Regions from separate parts of the Homo sapiens genome. Here region 1 is reported to be linked to region 2. Evidence: microRNA targets listed by miRTarBase, many of them from high-throughput screens and not tested one by one. Region 2 holds a microRNA gene; the other region holds the end of a gene's coding sequence. Distances are between the middles of the regions.

Region 1 (3,278 bases), 1.7 Mb from region 2:
GGTAATCATCATAATGGGCAAACATTTTATGATGGAACCATCCTAAACCAATTGTTTTTATTTTAAAATAGATTATGTAGATTTGTGGGTAAGCTCATTTTTCTTAGGGAAGGTATAACAATAAAGGTTGTGCATATATTGAAGTCTGAACGGCTTGCTTTTTTGAGTTTAAAGCAGCTGAATAGCCTGTTATTGAGTCTTGTCCAAAATATCTGGAGTTATAAGTTGGAGCCATAGAAGCTTCTTAAAGATTTTGAACTTTTCTTAATGGAATTTTACTCAATATTTGTTTCCATTCACTTGTAGGTGACAAAGAAGCTGAAGATGGGTGGTGGAGAGAGGTATAACATTCCAGCCCCTCAATCTAGAAATGTTAGTAAGAACCAACAACAGCTTAACAGACAGAAGACCAAGGAACAGAATTCCCAGATGAAGATTGTTCATAAGAAAAAAGAAAGAGGACATGGTTATAACTCATCAGCAGCTGCCTGGCAGGCCATGCAAAATGGGGGGAAGAACAAAAATTTTCCAAATAATCAAAGTTGGAATTCTAGCTTATCAGGTCCCAGGTTACTTTTTAAATCTCAAGCTAATCAGAACTATGCTGGTGCCAAATTTAGTGAGCCGCCATCACCAAGTGTTCTTCCCAAACCACCAAGCCACTGGGTCCCTGTTTCCTTTAATCCTTCAGATAAGGAAATAATGACATTTCAACTTAAAACCTTACTTAAAGTACAGGTATAAAATAAGACAAATGTTTAAATTTAGTTATGTTCACGGATAGTTGTCAATTGGTCTGAAACAAATTCGCTAGGGAATCTATTTGTGTAGAACTAATTAATGTAAAAAAAATAGACCATCTCGTGTTGTGTGCACTGTGATATAATGGTAGTATCAGTGCAACTTAAACTAATGATTGTACTTGATATTAAGTGTTCTCAACTGAGTAACTTTTAAGTGGAAACCAAGTTTAGATTTGGGGAGTGGTAAAGGAATCAGCTTTTTCTATTGTTAGGGGAAGACAGTAATTTATCATTCATGGACCAGTAGATTGTTGAAAGTTGGTGAATCGGATTATAAGCTTCTAGCTAACACAAGGATTCAGAATTAGGTAAACATCTGAAGGTTTAGTATATTAGAAACACCCAAACCAGTAATATGCTAACCTGATGCACTGCTGAAAGAAAATGTGAATTTTTCGTAATAATTGCATTTTAGTGAATTGTACAGTGGGTGGAAAGGGCATTTGGAGCTCATTAGAATGAGACATAGTACACCCCAATGGCCCTGTTTATTAAATGTAGTGGATTAAGTGTCTGTCAACAAATACACCAAAACCATTTTTTATAGAAACAGTATTTAATGGTCACTCAATAGCTTTCAAAATACATTTTTGTATTACAGCACTGCACAAGCTATTCTAATAGTGCTCTGGCCTCATCATTCCTGCAAAGCTTGCTTTGGGGAGTTGGATAATGTGAAAATTTTAAGTACCTAGGGGAGAAAGAGCCATGTAAATATCTGTAATAAACTTGTAGCATATGTAAAGTTTTCTTGGCCTTTATCTTACAAAAATGGAGTATTTTAGTATGAATTTGCTGAATGTAAGACCGTGGACTGTTTTTTATAATATGGCCTAATTTTAAAGGTCCAAAATAACTTGTTTTTAAAGTTTGCCCTTGTGCTAAAGTGCCAGTGTATGTATGTTATACTTGATTTGGTTGTAAACTATATTTCAAAGTAAACCCTAGTGTAATAAGTTTTATAACTAAAAAGGTTTAAGCTGCTAAAACTATTTTTAAGAGATGTGAAATGCAGTATGGGACTATCTTTTTTTCCTCCTCTAAGCCCAAAGATTAACTAGAGTCCCTCCAACCTTATAGATTGTTGGCTTTCACAATCTTATAACCTAGGATACAGGTAGTTTCGAGTATGGTGCCAGTGATGTTTTGTTTTTGTTTGGTCAAGGGGTAGGTGCAACCCAATGGACCACTTATGCAAAAGATGTAAACTCTTGCATAATACATTGATAACATGTTTTGCCAACTTTAAATGCTTAAACATAAGCGAAACCAGTAGCAAGTATGTGGGTCAGCTTAAAAATTTTGATTGTTAATGCCCTATTTTCTAATTTGGCACCTCTTGATGCCTAAGCAGGTAAGCAGATGCCTAAGCTGTATTTCTCCAAATAAATCAAGATGAAGTACTGCCCAAGTTAAATATTGATAGCCTAAAGACAAGTTTATGTAGTACTTAATGTACATGATATGAATGTGAAGCATAAAATTAAATAAAATTTTTCCCCATTGGCTTGGTTTTATTTTAAAAATGGTTTTGATTGCTTAATATTCTTTTTAAAAATGTGTTTTACTTGTCACTGACTTGAAGCTCATAATACACTCACAATATTCCAAACTCTTGGATTTCTCAGACTCCAGAACTATGAACCACTACATTTCTGATCATATATATATACGTATATATAAAAAAGGTCACAACTAAAATGTGATAGGACTGTTGGCTTGAAAAGGGGCAACTAGTTTGCTGACTGATACAGAAGATACTAGGATTTGACAGCTATGCAGTTAAGCAACTACTTAGGATTTCTCTCTCCCAGTAGTGTTAATTAAAAAGCAAAAAAAAGGCCACACATGGAAAACATCGCAAAGCTTTTGAAAGTTAATTCCATGATCTAGGTTCATAGAAAAAAAATTATAAGCAAATTTATCAAGTTGACAAGAACCCTTGTGTTTTAAGTATGTTGACAAATGAAAAGTATATAAGGGGACCCCTCAGAAGAAAAGCATCACAACCACACCTTTCTGATACAGATTCCAAATGATAGGGCATCTTAAAACTAGTTTGAGTAATCCTTAAAATGCTACAACTAGTCCCATGGCAAAGCTGTATTATTTTCATGCAAACTAGTTAACAATTTGGAGTTAAGGCAGAACCAGCATTTGGGTGTTCATTTTGTTTCCAGGGTAATTTCTGTGAACAATGCCAAGGATTGCAGAATTGAACTTCATGTATTGGACAAATCTCAGCCTAGGTGTCTGTTAGTTTTTAAGCTATATATTGAATCTAGTGTATATATTGAATACACTAGATTTTTAGTGACTAATCTAGTAATACACTAGATTTTTGGTTTGACTCAAGCAAAATGAGTAAATGGAAGTGGGAGTGGAAGATTACCTAACTTCATACTTTAGGAAAGGTACTGATAAAAGTTTTGGTTAGCCTATATAGAGAATGGTGATAGGAATTTCCCAAGTCGA
Region 2 (3,278 bases):
CTGCTCTCAGAGACCTCCATCTAGACAGGAGGGAGACACTCAGCCAGGCCAGGATAACACAGAGACCAGGACGGGCAGAGGGCGGTGGCAGCCCCAGCCTAGAAGTGGCAAGGACATCGGACTGAGGCTTTGAAGGATGTGGAGGAGTTTACTCACTGGGGAAGTAAGCGCAGACGGCCCTGCAAGTGGAAAGGCCTGGAGGTTTGAAAGGTGGCATGTTTTCGGGAAACAGAGGCTGGAGTCGGGCTGGAAGAGGCTGAAAAAGAGAGTGGGGTGGGGCCAGGTCGCTGTTGCAGCACAGGCAACTTAGAGGCTGTCCCACCCTGACGGGCATCCCCTCTGCTCCCTAGCCCCCACCCCCATACCAAACCCCTCCTGGGGATCACAGTACCACCCCTCCCCCCAAATAACTGGAATTGTTTGAAAATACCCAGCAAGAATTCAGCTCAGCAGGTTATACTGGTCAGGGGAAGCAGCTGATTGGGGGTCTGGGGGTGGGGGAGGACTCAGTGGGACTTCCTGGGAGAAGGTGAGAGGTCCTGACCTTAGGCCAGGGCCAGCGCCCCTGTGAGCACTGATCCAGGAGCAGATTACAAGGGAGACTGGAGCCAAATCCGCTTTGAAAAAGAGCTGGTGGAGTTTAACTCCCGCTCAGTGAGGTCACCTGGAAAAGCTCCTTCCCTGCCTGGGAGCCGGGTGTAGAGTTGGGGTGAGGGGGATGTGGGGCCAGAGCAGAGTTCTGGTAAGGAGCTCTGTGTGTGTGTGTGTGTGTGTGTGTGTGTGTGTGTGTGTGTGTGCGCGCCAGGGTGTATGTGCATGTATGTGTATATTTGGGGATGCATGTATGAGGACGTATGTGTATATCTGGGGATGTGCATGTGTGTGTGTATTTGTGTGTGAGCGTATCTGTGTGGTGTGCGTCTGTGTTTGTTAGTAGATAGTGCATTTGTGTCTCTGCCTGTTGGCCTCGCGATTCATCCATGGTTACCGTACTGACACCTGTGTGTGTGTGCGTGTGTGTGTCGTGTCCACCCCTGCACACACATGCACACTTCTGCGCAGCTTTTTCATGTCTGCTTCCATACATTTCCCTTTCCTGCTTCTCTCCACCCTTCCTTCCCAATCCTCAGCCCCACCACTATGCCAACATTCCTTCATTCATTCCTTCAAAAAATGTTTCTCGAGGGTCTGCTTTGTGCCAGGCACTGTTCTAGGCTCCAAGCATGAACGGGAGATAAGAAGGCGGGAGAGGCTTCTACTTTCATAGAAGCGTGTGTCCTCTGTGATGAGGTAGACATTAAACAGACAAGCCATTAGTAATATGGCACATAGTGACGCATGCTAGGGAACGAAATTCAGCAGCGTGAGGGGAAAAGGAGGGCTGTGTTACATGGCCTCTCAGGGAGGGCCACTGAGAAGATACCTGAGCAGAGACCTGAAGGATGAGAGGCTGGAGATGTCATTCTCTGGAGGCAGGGTGCCCAGGCTGAGGACGCAGCTAGTCAAAGGTCCCTAGGTGGGAGCATGCTTGGGGGGTTCTAGGGACGGCAAAGGGGCCAGTGTGGCTGGAGTGGACAGGTGAGGGGGAGGGTGGGAGGAGAGGAGTCAGCAGAGCCTCTGTGTCACCCAGGGGCCTGGGGGGCCTCCTGGGGGCTTTGGTTTTTGCTCTGAGTGACCGTGGTGGTTGTGGGAGTCACTGCAGGACTCAGCAGGAATTCTGGATAGTAAGTGGGAGGTGGGGGACCAGTGAGGAGGCTGTCGCCAGAACCCACTGAGACGTGGTGGTGGCTTGGGAACAGAGGGCAGAGCAGGGGAGGCGGGGGAGGCCCCATCTCAGATAAGTTGAGTGGGACGTCAGGGATTTGATGACCCAAGCCTGGAGTGGAAGATGTAAACCTGGGGGCCATTAGCAGTCCAGGGGCATGAGCCCAGTTCCCCTGGGAGCCACATCGCTCATTTGCTTGGCTGTGTGGCTTCTTGTGTGTGCAAAGCTTCAACGCCCCTCCCCTCTAGAGCCTTAGGAGAGGCCCCAGGGGTCAGCTGAGGTGGGGCCGAGCCGAACTAAGGGGCAGTGCCAGCAGTTGATTCAGGGCACCTGGGTGTTGGCATCAGACAGACCTTGGCTTGCATCTTCCTGTGACCTTGGACAAGTTCTTAACCACCCTGAGCCCCATCGTCTCATCTGTAAAGTGGAGATAATAGGAGTATCTCCCAGGCGGGCTGCTTGTGAGGGTTGAATGAGATGGTGCCTGTGTGGGACTGAGATGACACACAGCCCCCTTATTATTCATATTGACCATGAGCTATGGTGGCCCCTGGCAGGGCTTAGGAGAGGGGTATTTACTATGTGCCTGGTCCCTCTACGGTTGATAAACTTGATAAACGGGGAACCTGGAGCTCATCAAAGAGGCCAAGTGACTTGCCCAAGGCCACAAGGAAAGGGTGAAGCTGTCATTGGAACTGACTTCTAACCATGCTCCCCACAGCTTCAAGCTGCCGCTGCACAGGAAGCTCCAGGTAGGCGGAAGGAGTTGGGGTCTGAAGACTGACTCACCTGTCCAGGAACCTCTGCCCAGGGGTGTAAGGACTGCCGTGGTGCAGCCTCATGGCATCCCCCATTCCCCCTGCAACAGGGCCCTGGGTGTTCATTTCAATCCGATTTTTCTTTTCTTTTTTTTTTTTTTTTTGAGATGGAGTCTTGCTCTGTCACCCAGGCTGGAGTGCAGTGGCGCCATCTTGGCTCATGGCAAGCTCCGCCTCCCGGTTCAAGCATCAGTCCAATTTTTCTAAAGCAAATGTTGGCTTCTGGGGAGAAGGTGTGGCCGGACAATTTCCAGGAGCACATGGCCCTAGGCATACTGACCCTTTGAGATGGCCTTAGTTTGGGCAGGGATGCTGCAGGTGGTCAAAGCTGGACCTCCCGCCCAATGGAAGGTGTTGGGTGGCTGGCCCCCAGCTGTGTGGCGTGTGCATCGCTGGGCCTGAGTGTGTGCGTGTGTGTGTGCATGTGTGTGTGTGCATGCGTGTGTGTGCATGCGTGTGTGTGTGTGTGCGTTGTTGGGGTGGGAGTGGGAAGTCAGACCTGTGTGGCAAAAACCTGAGTCTAGTGGAAGGCCTCCCCTGCCCCTACCCACCCTCCTCCCTGGCCGAGGGGGCTGAACCGTGGCTGGAGGGAGCCACGTCAGGCTGGGATCTCCGAGGGGTCCTTGAACCACATCTGAGCTCTGGGAAGGCTCCCCGGTGCATGGAAAGCAGAGAGGGAGGCTCCGTGGTGATTT

The links. The annotated mature microRNA hsa-miR-4418 reads CACUGCAGGACUCAGCAG and lies in region 2 at 1,695-1,712, shown strand. An mRNA with a match to its seed (bases 2 to 7 or 8) in the 3' UTR can be bound and repressed. Matches are read on the target gene's strand: a 7mer-m8 pairs with bases 2 to 8, a 7mer-A1 pairs with bases 2 to 7 and ends in A, and an 8mer does both.
Region 1: the mRNA of PNRC2 is a reported target of hsa-miR-4418. Seed matches in the 3' UTR shown: 7mer-A1 at 1,814-1,820.

What each region holds. Positions count from the first base shown.
Region 1 is chr1:23,961,134-23,964,411 of GRCh38, forward strand. PNRC2 (proline rich nuclear receptor coactivator 2) reads left to right here. Exons shown (of 3, transcript NM_017761.4): 2 at 1; 3 at 307-2,329. The coding sequence starts at 325. The coding sequence ends at 744. It overlaps SRSF10 (serine and arginine rich splicing factor 10), which reads right to left. Exons shown (of 6, transcript NM_054016.4): 6 at 3,214-3,278. Among named protein-coding and RNA genes, the nearest start is that of PNRC2, 2.9 kb to the left of the region's middle.
Region 2 is chr1:22,264,583-22,267,860 of GRCh38, forward strand. It overlaps MIR4418 (microRNA 4418), which reads left to right and starts at 1,657; the gene lies at 1,657-1,718. RefSeq lists enhancers at 1-340, 341-1,223, 1,880-2,399.